Homo sapiens: one gene and its partner. The protein of the gene in region 1 purifies or fractionates together with the protein of each later gene. This does not show direct contact. Each region holds a gene or a part of one and is shown on either strand. Other genes may lie near its edges.

Region 1 (7,807 bases):
AGGATAATTTACCCCTGAAGCAAAATGACTTCACTGAAATTAGCAAATCCTATTGATGATCTTAAAGTAAACTTTTCTGGAAATGAGCTTGCTCAAATCATAAGTGAGGATTAATGTAAATGTAATAAACTGAATCTGTAAATTGGTAATGTTGAAAAGAAAAAACAATTGGGTAAGAACAAAACTGAAAACTAGCAGTGTAGCAGAAAGCACACTAGTCTTGGGATAAGGAAATGCTGAGAAGGCTGAGGGGTACATTCAATAATAACAAAGAGCCTTCCAGTTCTAAGTATTTGTGACTAACAACAACAAAAAAATCTGTTGTTTGCTAGAGAATTCTTAACTCTAATGTGAAGATATGTTCTGTGCATTTCCTTTGAACTTGGCCCTATGATTTCTTTTCTTTTCTTTTCTTTTTTGAGACGGAGTTTTGCTCTTGTTGCCCAGGCTGGAGTGCAATGGCGCGATCTCAGCTCACCACAACCTACGTCTCCTGGGGTCAAGTGATTCTCCTGCCTCAGCCTCCTGAGTAGCTGGGATTACAGGCATGTACCACCACGCCTGGCTAATTTGTGTTTTTAGTAGAGATGGGGTTTCTCCATGTTGGTCAGGCTGGTCTCGAACGTGCGATCTCAGGTGATCCACCTGCCAAGGCCTCCCAAAGCCCTGGGATTACGGGCGTGAGCCACCATGCCCGGCTGGCCCTGTAATTTCTTAAAGGGATCAGAAGCCCTGCTCTGAAGTTAGGCAGTCACCTCTGTGACCTCAACAACATCTCTACATTTTGCTTTCTTTATCTGTAAACCTAGGTTTATCAGATCTTCTTCCTGGCGACGCTGTGACAATTAAATGAACTGCTGCTCATGGGAATGGCTGGGTGACTTCGGTAGCTGGCATGCTGTCAGTACTCACTAGCACCCTGTCCTTTCCCCAAAAAGAAAGAAGCAGAAAGCTGTATTTGTTCCCATTTATGGGACTAAGAGATCAGGAACAATAAGGATGTGTTTTGCGCACTTTTACACTCATTAGAGGATGACCATATATCCCAAGGAAGATGAAGCCAGTAACTGTAAGACACAATTACAAGTTTGACTTTTCTCCCTCTATGATATGCTCTGTTCCATGAGGGCAATGGAGGCACCAGAGAAGGCAAGAGGAAACATCATTAGTCCGTCCTTCAGCATCAGGTGGTCCCACTGCTCCTGAGGCACCCTCAGTTTTCAGGGTCACTGGTTTCCTCCCTCCTGGCAAACTCTAGCCACAAGCGCTCAGACTCGAAGGTGTTGAACTCTCTTTTCTTCCTTACAAGGGTGCCAGAATTCTTAACTGCATTTGTTTATCCCAGTAAAAGTGAGTCCTTCACAATGAGAAGAGCTAACATTTATTCAATCAACAAATGCTGAGTGTCCGCCATGGCCAGATACTCTTTGACAGTCGTCACAGCACACAGAACATGTGATTAGTAAACATAATGGTGCAGGACATCAGCCTGCTAATGTTATTCCCAGGTGTCATCAAATGAGTGACAATTTGTACAATGTTTCATTAAATGCCTATTTAGAGGATAACCATAGTTGATGACACAGAAAAAAGCCAAACCCAGAATGCAAGAATCGTAGCCAGCAGAGCACGTGGAAACAACGTCCAAGTTGCAGGTAGCAGCTTGCAGGATAACCACAGTTGGCGACGCTTTCAGGCAGCTGGGAGAATTCTCAGTTGTCCATTTTATGGTTAAATGGTTTTACTAAGGTCTAAAAAATTCATTTCTAACTCCTAGACTTATGTTTCCATTACTATATAAAGAATGAGCCAAACAAATAAATAACAAAATATTCACTATGGACCCCAAAATTTCAAGGCATGAAGAGAGCCCCAAATTCTCTGTGAACTGCAAAGAGAAACCATTAGTACAGGAATAGATGAAGAAATTGTTTTTGAGTATAATATAAACATAAACAAATCTCTTAACAGCACGAGTGTCAACAAATGCTTTTGTTGTTGCAAAAACAGTCTCAAAAAGAGTGGTGACAAGGAGACTGACAAGGAGAAATGAGCTATTTTTTCATCTCCAAAATTGCACTTCCTGGTCCACGGTTCTTAGCACTGCAGATGTTGCAGAACTGTGCAGCAGAGTTCTAAAAATGCAATTTAAAAACACATATTTAAAAAATGATCTTCTTTTTCTACTCTCATATTCAGAAACACTAAGGTAGCGTTAGTCAGGGGGTGGAGAGGAAGTAATAGGATGGCACTCCTTTCTCTGGAGTTTATTTCTGGTTAACATAGGATTTAGTCTAGATCAGCTGTTACTCTGTGACTCCAAGGACACCCAACAGCAGAATACGTCTAATGTGACCTGGAGGAATATGACACTAAAAAAATGATAGCATCATGGAACACAAATCAGGCTGAGAAACACATAAGATACACAATGGCTCTCTACTGTTGTTGCTCATCTCTACAGCATGACAGCTGTCAACTGGGCCTGAATGAATTCCTTCAAATGGGTATGCTTTTATGTTTACTATAGTACATAGAACATTTCTAAATATTTTTACATTTGAAAACTAGATTAATTTTTGTTATGTGATATAAATCCACATTGTAATTTTTTTTTAACCCATACAGCCATAAGGATGAAGGGTTACAGTTTAAAGCACATTCCTCTAAGTGTGTTAATTTCCCTCTAGTTGATAGGTGCCAAGCTGCCAACTCACCATGCTGGGCATGGGCAGGCACTCCTTGTGGAACATGTGCCGGCAATGGAAGACCACCACGCTGAAGGGCTTAGCTGCATCTGGCGAGGAGGGCAGAGAAAGGAGGAGAACTTAATGCAACAAGCAAGATCATTTTAAACCAATCCCGACTGAAAGTCGAGTTGCAGTTTAATTTTCAGCAATAAGGTGCCTTTAGAGAATGGCTTATTTACAAAAGCATTCCTGAGGGGTGGTATGATCAGACACAAAACAGGTATTATAATCATGTTGCTATGCGATTCACAGGTTACTTGCTTAGCCTCTGTGTCACTTACCCAGACTACATTGAGGACAACTGTAGGAAAACCAGCAAGTGTATGTGCCAATGCGCCCCTAACCCCTATAATCATTATACACCACAGCTGAAGTTGAGTCTGTGGCTTCATAAAAATGCTTTGCCAGTCCACCTGCTACCTTTGCCAAGACCACACACTGACTCAGAGGCGGACCTGGGTTACAAGCCCAGGCTGTGGTGACCTTGCATTTTACTGCACTTGTGCTTGGGCAGATCCCCTCATCTGTTCCTGCTCTGTGTGGCCAGCTTATTTTTGGTAAGATTTAGTGTCATCAGCAGAGTAAATTTGGAGTTAAATCTAACTGTAGAGTGGGAATGTATGTGGTTCCTTTTTGCTGCAACACTGTCTGAAATGCTATGGAAGCTCACTTCTTCACCTGAGCCCATGCAGTTTTCAACAGAAGCACTTAAACATCCAAATCTAATTCCTCTAGAAAAGAACCTAAGTAGAACAACTTCTCATGGACTGCCCCATGAAATAATCCTTTAATCCTAAGTAAACATGAGGTCAACTAGGTCTTTTAGTACTTTGTTATGCTGAACTTATATTTGAAAAGCATTTGTTAGCATCCTAACAATGCTTTGTTAGTTTCCGCTTTTGAATTATGCAAATTTCTTCTGTCATAATAAACCTTAAGAAGGTGCTTTTCATTACAGATGAAGACATATATCTATCTGCCAAGAACTAGAAATAAACAAATGCTTATGTCTTTTAAAGACTCACAGTTCCAATTAGATGGCAGGGATTATGTATGTTTCCACTGAAATGTGAGATGACTTGGGCATGTAGAACCATATATCAGAGAAAAACACTAAAGAAAAGGGAATGCTACCTATAAATTTTTTTTCCCAGACATGTATATGGTTCTTCTACCTTGAAATTTAAATGCTGATGGTTAGTTTTCATTTTGTTTTTACCCTAGACTAGCAGTTCTAAAAGAAGGGCCCCTGAACCAGTGGCATCAACATTACCTGGGAACTTGTTAGAAATATACATTCTCAGTTCCTGCCCTGGAAGTTTGGAACCAGAGACTCTAGGGAGTCTGACTGGGTCAGCGATCTGGGTTCCAATAAGCCTGCCAGGTGACGATGACTCACCCTAGAGCTTGAGAACCTCAGCTCTAAGCAATGGCAGCACCAGCATTCCACTGAGCAGGATGGAAGCCACAACACTTCTCTCCACTGGGTTATTCTGAAAGTTATATAGTTTTATAAACGGTAGTTGGCTAATTCCAAAATTTTGATTCCACTCATCATTAAAATACATGTTTGGGATTTTTTTGGGGAAAACCTTCTTACCTGATGGAAGAATAGGGGAAAGGCACGACTCACAGATGTTCTCCTCTGTAAGAAAACACACATACTTTGGATTATGCCCTGTTTATACCTGCTTGGCCATTTCTGAAAGCAGGGCACGTGGTTCCATATGATTATTTCAATTTTACCCACCATCAACAAGAACACCTTTCATTTGAGTTCGGTGCATTTTCTTCAGTAAGGACAAAGAGTCAGCTACGAGAATCTTCTTGCAGCCTTCACGAAGCAGAATCTAATGCATACATTTTAAAAGAAAAGCCATCTTAAGTAGACTCAAATCTGAGGGGTGAAGGGACACTGTACTGGGGATTCCAAAAGCTGGCATGCTTGAAATACTCAAAAGGGGCACTCACTGATTCTCTTGCCCTCAGTACCCTCTTCCTGCCAAACCACTGCCAGGCTGACCTGGCCAGCCAGGATCCACTCATTACTCTGTGCGTCATTTCATCATTTCTTCCAACCATACACGGGCTCCTGTAGCATTTGTATAATCAAACATAAATTCCAAAGTCTGGCAAAGAAGGCCCTATATTAACTAACCCTATTGCTACTTTAGAGGGCTTCCTTATACAGATCCTCTTGGGCAGACTTTGGCTCCTACATCATGTGTTCATTCCATTCTTCAGATCTTTACCCAGAATGAAAACCTGCTATTCCAAAATCATCAATTTATTTCATAAATTAATCTATTTACTGCACAAATAAGTACTGGGTCCCTATCACGTATAGGGTACTGGGTATAGATAATAAACTAAACAGATACAATCTCTGTCTTAAATCCCCTTGAGGATGCAACCTATCTTTTTCTTTCCAAATCTAATCCAAACCATTCAGCATAGTGCTATGAATGTGGTGTGTGTGTGTGTGTGGTATTAACTGACTATAATAACCTTCAAATTTGGTGACTCCTGGGAGGGGTTTGAAAAATGACCATGAATACAAATATTCTCTCATAAGAGTCCTTTTCTTTATTCTTCATCCCAGCATTATAGCTTTTGTTTCTTTACACATTTTTCTTATTCCCCTGCAGGCTTTTTACTATTTCCTCCCTTCCTGCCTGGAGAATGACAAGAGACATCACAATGCTTTGGCAGCCTCAGAAGTCAGAAGCACACAGTGGAGGATGATGCCCATTTCTGGCTGGTACCAATGTTGTATTTCAGAACTGGAGGCACGATGGGGTCCAAGATCCTCCCCTGCTTTTAGGTGGGGACACAGCAGGGACAGGCGACACTTTACCTTTCATGTCCATTCTGTGGGGCACAGTGTGAGCTCCCACCCTTTGCTGGGTTTTCTTAGGTATTAGTAGGAAACTGAGAGGCTCCAGGAGGTGTGCATAAGCCAGATGTCATTTCATTTATTATTATTATTTTTTTTTAACCAGAACTTGTTGCTGCTTTTTCAGAGGGAGAAACTCAAGGCCTGAAGGACAGAGACGCTCTGGGGCTGTGCCTGTGGCTTCTCCCTTTGGGCCCTATGTGTCTTATCATACGCAGTTATGTGCAGTTACACATGTCACATCATAGAAGTTCACATTAACAGACAGCGCTGTCTCACCACAGCCCAGCTCTGAGGCTGAGAAGCATGTGTCTTTCACGGGCAAGTGCCACTGTTTAGAGGGGGCACTTTGGCTTTCTTCATACTGAAGTCACTCTCGACTTGACAAGCTAGATGGGCATTTTGCTTTCATAAGTTTTAAATTCATGCCACTGGGGAAGAAAAGTAAGGGAGCAGCCAACTGCAGCCCTCTATCCTCAGTGGTCCACGTGTTCCTCTGAAAATCCCAAAGAGCACTGGCTTTGGGTGAATCCAGCCGAAAGCCTTTTTCCCCTAATTATACAAAGACAAATTAATATTCAGGAAAACAAAACTAATGTCTAGATTAAAGTTCTATGCCTGCCATTTCTAGTATTGATGAACAGGAAATTACATGATTTTAGTATTCCTACATTAATTGAGAAACTGCCTATGAAGTTTTATTCTTTAAAATTCTACCAGGAATCAATTTTTTTTGGATTTTTAAAAAAATACATTAAAATTTTAACAGACTGCATTAAAACATACAGGTAGAAGAGAAAAATAACAAATACAGTAAGAAAGATAGCTAAGAAATATGGATGTCAGGAAACTTTAAATAAATTTAAAAGCAAACATATAAAGCTGCTTAGCCTCCAAGACAAAAATAAAAAACTTAAGAGTAATGGTTTCAACCACAACATCTCAGATAAAACAATTTTAAAAAATGGCTCTGACTCTCGTGGGTGCTCCAGGCCCATGGCATGAATTATATAAGAGAAAGGCAGGGCCAGCAGTCTAGACAGAGGCCACTGTGTCTACAAGCTAAAAAAGAAAACAGCAAAATATGCAAACCAGGAAGGAGCCATATCCTCAGCAGGATTACATTTTTCTAAACAGGTACAATCTGTCCGCCTGCAGATAGCATTTTCTAGGAAAATTCATTATTCAGAGGCAAACAGCCAGGAGAGGGGAAAGTACACAAATACAGCTTACTGCTATCTCCTACTTCATTTGGTCAAAATTCAAGGCTCCCAATCAGAAAAACAGGAAAACATTTTAAGTTTCATTTATATGATCCCAGGCAGGTATTTCAAAATATGAGACTATCCTCTATAGAATGTAATCATTTATTCTATAACATCTGTAATAATGTGTAGGCAATTAAAGGTGATAAGTGAAGGAAGACAGTACAAGATTATAATGTACTACAATCTACAGGTATTGCTTTCAACATCAGACATAGGACAAGGCATTATGTTGACTATGGATTCCTAGTAGCAACTCCATCAGTGACTCATGAAAAATGTGCTGTTGTTCACATTCATTTCACCCTCAAAAATTCATACTTGCAATTTCCCATGAGTGTCTTTTTTATAAAGACACTGATGGCCAAAAGTCAGATGCCACAGCAGTTGGCGTAAGCAGGTCATCCTCACCTCTTTTTGACCTTCACACTCATGATTTTGGATGACTGCTATGTTTCAAGGTCATCTTACCCAGCCTATCTTCGCAACCACAGACTATCATCACCTTCCCCATCTCCCTTCTAACTTGCAAATGTGATGTTCTTTACATACTTAGGGCACATGCACACTCTTCTGTTACTCAGGTTTCGATGACCAGAATGGCACTGAGCACTGCTGCTCTTGATCTGAGCACTATCTTTCATTATTTTGTGCTATTTTTCTTTTTAAAATATGAAATATTAAAAAAAAACTGAAAACAAAAAAAGACCCAGTCCCTACCACCTAGATTTAACAAATCTGTTGATATTTTCCCACGTGCTTCAGATCTCATTCCAGAAAATAAAGTATTACAGACACAGCTGACACTTTCTTGCCCTCTACCATTCCTGCTCCTTCTTTTCAAACACAACTCCAACTTCATTTAGTGTGTGTCCAGCTGAAATATACAGCTGGCT
Region 2 (7,629 bases), on another chromosome or scaffold:
AATCCCAGCTACTCGGGAGGCTGAGGCAGGAGAATCACTTGGACCCGGGAGGTGGAGGTTGCAGTGAGCCGAGATCACACCATTGCACTCCAGCATAGGCAACAAGAGCGAAATTCCATCTCATAAAAAACAAAACAAAACAACTCAGAGGATTATCATGTGTGTGAACATACCCCTTTCTTCAGGGTGGGAATAGCACCTGGAATTAAAGAACATGAGAAAGTGCTCTGAAATTCAACAGGATAGCTGAAAGACCTGCCATCAACAACAGTGTAGGGGATGAAGCAAAATTTAAAAGGTACGATTTTGTAAGAGTTATGTTCTTTGAATATGCTCAGGGTTAGAAATCCAAGAGTGCAGCCTTATTTAAGAGTATCTGGCTAAAAGGTAAAGTAGATAAGAAGTAATCAGAAGTCTCCCTGGTTGAATTCCTCAGTGCATGATTAATCTGATGGCAACCAATGTCAAGGAGCACCCTAAAATATGCATTGGGTAAATTCAGAAGCAGACACGTTAAAATTTGGTAAAACAATAGCAGAATTTAAGGGGTTGGCAACTCAAGTCCTCTGTAGGTGCTAGGAAAAGCAAGAAGGTACAGATTCTAGAACTCTTTATTTAGACTAGGTATGGTGCGAGTGAAAACCATCACTCCATCAAGGCAATTTTTATTTTAAAAAATTACAGAAAGAACAAAGAACTAAAAGAATTTTAATAAAATGAGCAAGTTTACATTTGTACATTTTGTGTATCTGGGACCCAATCGGGACAAAGGATAAAGTTGCAAGGACAAAGGTTTCTGTGGGAGAGCAAGCAAAAAGCAAGGGCTGCCCCAGTTGCATCATGGGCATCCATTCAGAGCTGGGACCCCGCAGCCACCTGCCTGTGCTCCGGAAGTGAGAAGCACATGTAAGCACGCGTCAGTGAGAGCGTCGCAGTTGAACTCAGCCCAGTGCAACGCAGCCTGAGTGACATCCCTACATTAATACTTGATAGGGAACAGCAGATAAACAGTTCCAAAAACCAAATGGTATTGCCCATAGAATATGAATGTAAACTGAGTTCAGTTCATGCTGTTTTAACCAGAATGGTTCCACTGAACCTAATGAGGGGAAAAAGGTCTGATGGATCTAATTGCTCTATTCGATGGCACAGTTACAAATCAGCAGGCCTGTGAGAAAGAACCATACATTTCTCTCAGAAATATGATTTGAGAAAAGGGCCTTGTAGGAGTGAGAGAAAGGTTAGAGAAAAGTACAGTTTTAACATATGAGACAATTCTTCATACTGTAATAGAATGCTGCTTGTGGTGAAGGATTTGGTAGAGATGGAAAACTGCTCAACTTTAATTCCCATTATTCTAAAGGATGACAAACATTTTAGAGTATTGATCAATGTTCAGTGAAAAAATAAAAATGACTAGTGTTGGCTGGGCGCAGTGGCTCACGCCTGTAATCCCAGCACTTTGGGAGGCCGAGGCAGGCAGATCACGAGGTCAGGAGACCGAGACCATCCTGGCCAACATGGTGAAACCCCGTCTCTACTAAAAATACAAAAATTAGCTGGGCGTGGTGGCATGCACCTGTAGTCCCAGCTACTCGGGAGGCTGAGGCAGCAGAATCGCTTGAACCCAGGAGGTGGAGGTTGCAGTGAGCCGAGATTGCGCCACTGCACTCCAGCCTGGGTGACAGAGTGAGACTCTGTCTGTGTGTTAGGAATGAGAAATTACTAAGTTTTTTCAAGATTTTACCCATTTTGTGTACAGAGAAATAAGCTTTTAATGGCGCAATGTTGCATATACGGGTAACTTGTTCTTTGAGAAATATAAACTCAAACTCACAAGTTGTCATGATAACATATGCAGTAATATGACCATTCTACAACAGAGTCACCCACAGGTAAAACACATGACTGGGCTTTGAGCTCACACCAATTTACACAGCATACAGTTGTGCTACAAGGAGAATTTCTTCATCATTTATTCTTTAGTTAATTGAAACATAGTCAGGAAAAAATGGTGCCAATTCCCCCCAAACAACACATGGATGTTTTTGCTTCTTGACCCACTTAGAGTCCCAAAAGGACAAAAAATACATGGACCAATATTAGTTCACGAAACATGTTTTAAAGAACAGAGAATGAGGTCTTCATCCCACCTCAGTAAGGCTTGGGCTGATGAAGAGAGGGTGTATTCAGGGTCCTCTCTTGTCATATGTACAAGCTGACGCTTGTTTCCCAAGCATGATAGTAGTGGGTAGACTGCCTTTATTGTTAGCCCCTAATAGAATCAGTCAGCACAATGAAGAAATTCCAAAGAGGGCAGTGAAGTGACAACAGCTTCAGCTCGTCATCGATGTTATACAGAAACACAAAAGGAATCCCCGGCCTGTGATGAAGGAGAGGCCGTTGCTGTGTGTTCAGGACACCTCAGAGCAGGCACATAAAGTGCTGGAGGGTGACACAGCCTGTCTGGATGTCCTCGGGAGGGTGTGCCATCCAGGAGGCGACACCCCCATCCAGCACACGGGCCCTTCCACCCGCTGTCGGTCCTGCTAAAGGTACGAGGCTAAAACCGGCCTCTCCAGAAAAGAACGCTCAGTGTGTGCTGACCACACTTCCCTTTGAATTTCCCGAGTATTCAACAGGAGATACATTTTAACAAGAAAAAATACCCCTAACAAACAGGACAGATGACTCTCTCAACAAGAGAGCAACTACGAACATGATACAAATTTAAATAAAAATGTTTAGTTCAACGTGTTCGTCATGGAGTTTCAAATCAGCAGATGCCATGACAGGAAAGGAGCACACAGCTGGGCCCTTGCCCGCCGTGGGTTTCCCGTGTCCGCGGCTTCTTCAAGGAGGGGAGAGCAGCTTCTCTCTTGGAGCGTTCTCAGTTTCTCAACAGATCTTCACTTGCTAGGCAGCCAGAAGCATTAGTTCACCCAAGAGTGAGTGCTTGGGTACACAAGGCAGAATCTTTTGGGAGCTGAGAGCCGGAGAGGAAGAAAGAAGGAACAAAGGTACTTCTCCAGGGTCAGCCGTTTCTGAGGGCAAAGGCAGAGCCCACGAGGTAACCCTGGGAAATGGGCCCATGAGTGAGCGGCGTGGATGGAGAACGTGTTTCTGCAGGAGGGCAAGGCTGACCCCCATGAGGCTCTGTGCCCTCGCCACTCACCCAGGCAAGAGAGGACTTTGTCGCCAGCCATGGTGAAGCCACGTTTCCAGTGCAAACATGAGTCTAAAGGTTGGAGTGTGGGGGTGGTGGGGGATCCCCCACCTGGGTCTGGACTGCATGAGGAAGACTCCCTTTTTTTTTTTTTCAAAGTAGACCTCTGTCTTGGATTACTATGTACCTGGACAGGTGAACTCTTGTATGTTTCTGTTTTGGGGATTTTTAGGGGTTTTCCATGTACATTCATAGAGCCTGGTCATTCCATGTACATTCATAGAGCCTGGTCAGCAGCGAGGAGTCCTTGTTGCGTATGGACGGAAGGCTCCCTGGCACCCAGATGTCTCCCTTCGTCCTGGCTGACACAGAGCATGGTGGTCATCTGCTCTTCATGTCCAGCAGGCTCAGAAAGAACTCGGAGTTCCCCTCGCACCCTTGGGCCAAGCTTTTCAAGTCCGAGTGCCAGGACTGGATGAGCTGGGGTTTGTGTGTCTGCTGGCGGCACAGTGGGTGTGCACAAGACCACCATTTGGGTATCTAACAAACACAGGCTCACAAAAGGGATTTTGGCATATCTGACAAAGCTTTTTGTCTGAGAGTTGGATTGAGCTTCCTTTCAACTTCATCTGCAAGAAGAAACCAAGACTGAGAATGCTGTCATGTGTTAAGTATATTTAAAGTGGCTACGTTCTAGTTTTGCAGAGTTGACATGCATTACTCCATGGGTTATTATTATGATGAGGATTTCTTTAATATCAACTTCTTGAAATGAAATGCTAAAGGTGTAAATAAAACCATCCTTAGTAACTGGACAAGGAAGAAAGTTACACAATTGCTTTTCTTATTTCACAAAAGTAATTGTTGCTTGTCTGGCTGAGGCATTTCTACTTAAGATCCTCTCTCCAACATTCTCTGGCTCTGATCATTTCAAGCAAGGCCTGTTAGAAAGTCATGAATGTTAATGCTGAATGAGACCATATAATAGTGTAACTCCAGGGTTCTCTCATTTGCAAATAAGAAAAGTAAAGCACAAACAAATAAGGGATGTAGTCAAAGTTACACAGCTAACAAGTGGCATATTCCTGGTTGGTCCTGGGAGACACCCTTCCGTTTCCTTAGAGGTAACTGGTGAAACTGAGTCTTAATGCCATCGGTCCCTGTCTGATCAACAGGACTTGAGTTCTGAAAGTTATAAAGTTTTTCTACACAATTCACTCGTGTCAACCGAGGCAGGTTGGTCTATTGGCAGGATCAAGCAGCAACTTAGCGATTCATCCTGCACTCCTTAGTTGCATCAGTCATTCCACAAACACGGATTAGATGCCTTCGACATGGCAGGCTTAGCCCTACAGACACTGAGATAAAGAAATGAAGTTCCCTGTCCTCAAAGAACCCAAACTCTAATAGTAGCGGGTAACAGCTGTGAATGCGAACACCAAGTAAAAGTGGGTGAAAGAGAAGGTGATTACTCTACTTAAGAGGTATGAGATGGCTTCACCAAGGGAAAAAAATAAAGGCTAAATTTTGACTGGGCATTTGCTGGGGACAAAGAAAAAGGTAAGAATATCTCAGGCAGTGGGTACAGCATTTACAAAAGCAACAAAGTATGAAATACCAAATCACATCTGGAAGGTTGTGCTAAAGCCAGGACATGAGCTGGGAAGCAGAGAGAGGTGGGGAGGGATATGCTGAAGGAGGTGGGACTGCATCTTCCAGGACAGGGAGCGTCAGCAAAGGCTTCTAAGTGGGAGGGGAACACGTCGGATACCCGCTCTGGAAAGAAGACTCTGCCAGCCATGTGGAATTTAGGCCCACAAGAAAGAAGTCTCCCGAAGGTGAGTACAGTGTGGGGACGAAGAATGTGGGGTTCTCAACTGGCCTGGGAGGCAGCTCTGGGCACGCCCATTTCCTGAGCATGCGACTGCTCTCTGCCTCAATTTCCTCTCCTGTGAAATGGAGATGCTGACAGTAAATACTGCATAAAACTGTCATGATGACAAAATGCAAGCATGACGTAAAATGCCTAGGTCAGTGCCTGGCACACAGCACATGCTGGGTAAGCGCCTGATATTCTGATGCTGCTCTCCTCCCTACAGACTCTCTTAATCACCAGCGTCCAAAAGGGGAGAAAAACTACACCGATGTTACACCTACCAGCCCAGCCTCTGCCTCTGCTCACACAGACCTCAGTTTCTATGAGTAGGATCAGATATTGATGTGTTGTAGTCATAGAGACAGAAAAAAGAAAAACCAACAAAGACTATTTTTCCATCAGTAAAATCTACCTTCAGTACAATGTTGACTGACCAGGAAGCAGCTCGTGGGGGCCAGCACTTACCTTATCGTAGGTGTAGATTAAGTTTTCGGACCTGGCCAGGCCGAGAGCCACCTGCATGGTCCTCCTGGCATGGATGCTGTCCCTCATGGCCCCCATCAGGAATGGGCAGAGGAGCTGCACTGACCAGGTGTCAGGCAGCATCTGCAGCACCTGGGCTGCATCAAATTCGGTGGCGTGGCGGTTCAGCAGGTCCACGGCAGCCACGGCCAGCTCGTGGGCAGTGGGGCCAGCATGCAGGTAGATGGCCAGCAGCGTGTGAAAGAGTTGCTGGCGGTGGGGTGGGTCTCGGCCCTCGGAGCACCACAGGCAGTAGTCCTCGGCCGCTGCAAAGTCCTGCAGCTCGTGCACCAGGATATGCAGCGCCTTCTCATGCTCGCCCAGCTTCCCGTGCAGGATGGCGCTCTCCATGGGCAGGCCAGCTCCCTGCAGCCTCTCTGCAAGACAGAACCTGCAGCTCAGAAAGAAAGGGGCTCGCCGGCCACCCGCCCAGCGACTGGCCTCCTTGCTGCTCTGGGCTTCAGGAGGGGAAAAGTCAACCTGGCTCCCTCACAATGCCAAATGCTGCCACCCAGATGACTGAGGGTAGGTTTTCTTGCATTTTCACACTGTGAATCCAGGTGTTAGTAAAACAGAAGGCAGACTCTACTCAAAAGTATAGCTGGACCACAGAATAATTCCTTTCTCTAGTGTTCAGAGGATGAAAAGAACAAATGAACCACAACTACAGAAAGGCCCAGTGGCTCAGTGAGTATCAGCCTTCCAGGTCTCCAGTCACTCCATCATCACTCCTATCCTCCCAGGACAGTATCTTTTGACTAAAATAGAAGGACACTATGTCCCCTAAAATCCTAACAAACACTACTTCCCCCCAAAAGATGTGCTGAACCCCTTTATTCCAATGTAAAGTAGATTTCATTGAATGGAATATGAGCTCATATTATTCAAAATCCATCTCTACATTACTCAACAGAAGGTTGCCAATAATAGGATTTTTTTGTTTGTTTCACCTGCAATTAAGCTTCCAGGTCCTAAGGAAAATGACATAACCCAAAGCGTCATTCCTGACCAAGGCCCCACCCTTAGTGGGCTGTGTCTCACGGGCAAAGTCACCTTGCTTCCTACCCCATCTGTAACCCCATCTGTAACTTCCCACCCAGCCCGTCTGGAACTGCACCAGCCCTTATCTGCATTGCAATTAAACTCTGAGTCTCTAAGGACCAGAAGTGAGGCTCATCTGTTTTTACATCCTCAAGAGATTATAAGATCTCTTCCTACTGTGAAGAAATATTATGAGGACAACCCCTAGTTTAGGGTCAAGACTAATAATCAAATTATAGGCATTTGAATCTTGGCTGTCGCTTAGGCCTGAAGAACATGGCAGACATTGCTACCTGTGTAGCCAAGGGCTGGCCCTGCAAGGTACATCCCTTATAGCACTAGACACAGAAGCCACAATACGCAACGCCTTCATCCTCACAGTGGAAGGCCAACAAATAATTACTAAGTGGCTGCCATAGTTAAGACCCTGGGTGAGGTACAAAGACAGTTAAGAAAAGATCACTGTGGTGATTTACACTTCCACATCTATCATCTCATTTATATTTGACTCCCACAGCCACCCCGAGTGGATAGGTTGGGCTGGAATCGTTTTTACAACTTCCCTAGACTGACATTTCCCCAAGTCATCTAACTAAGAAGGGATACAAAATCAGTGTTTGGATTTCCAGTGCTCCTCCCACAGTGCTGCGGGGGATACCCCCATTGCCTGAAAGCTCCCCTGTGCTACCTGCAAGCCCAGGCTTATACCTAATGACTGCTCATATAGGGCCTCTTCCGGGAGGCTGCCTCTGACCCCTCCACCCCAAGGCACAGCTCGTGGGTTCCTCGGCCCTTCTAGAACTGTACCTGCCCTTAACTGCATTCCAATTAAACTCTGAGTCTCTGAGGACCAGGACCAAGTCTCATCCATCTTTGTATCCTCAATGCACAGTGACACACTCTACATACTCAGAAAAGCTGGCGGAATGCAAACATTGAACCACACACTTGTGGCTGGCCTGAGAGTTTTATAAGGAGATTTGTAAAGCAAAAAGAATAAGTCAGGAGTGAGTAAAAATTCAAT

What was found.
Region 2: the proteins of VPS41 (region 1) and TGFBRAP1 purify together in Homo sapiens (affinity purification with mass spectrometry; 4 studies listed by BioGRID and IntAct, with this or other methods). This does not show direct contact.

Annotation. Positions count from the first base shown.
Region 1 is NC_000007.14:38,724,192-38,731,998, forward strand, and holds part of VPS41 (vacuolar protein sorting-associated protein 41 homolog), read right to left. Parts: intron 4,601-7,807; coding exon 4,501-4,600; intron 4,396-4,500; coding exon 4,351-4,395; intron 4,244-4,350; exon of another isoform or gene 4,150-4,243; intron 2,798-4,149; coding exon 2,718-2,797; intron 2,136-2,717; coding exon 2,055-2,135; 3' UTR 1-2,054. UniProt on the Homo sapiens protein: Plays a role in vesicle-mediated protein trafficking to lysosomal compartments including the endocytic membrane transport and autophagic pathways. Acts as a component of the HOPS endosomal tethering complex.
Region 2 is NC_000002.12:105,263,765-105,271,393, forward strand, and holds the end of TGFBRAP1 (transforming growth factor-beta receptor-associated protein 1), read right to left. Parts: intron 5,942-7,629; coding exon 5,508-5,941; intron 3,796-5,507; coding exon 3,619-3,795; 3' UTR 650-3,618; downstream 1-649. UniProt on the Homo sapiens protein: Plays a role in the TGF-beta/activin signaling pathway. It associates with inactive heteromeric TGF-beta and activin receptor complexes, mainly through the type II receptor, and is released upon activation of signaling.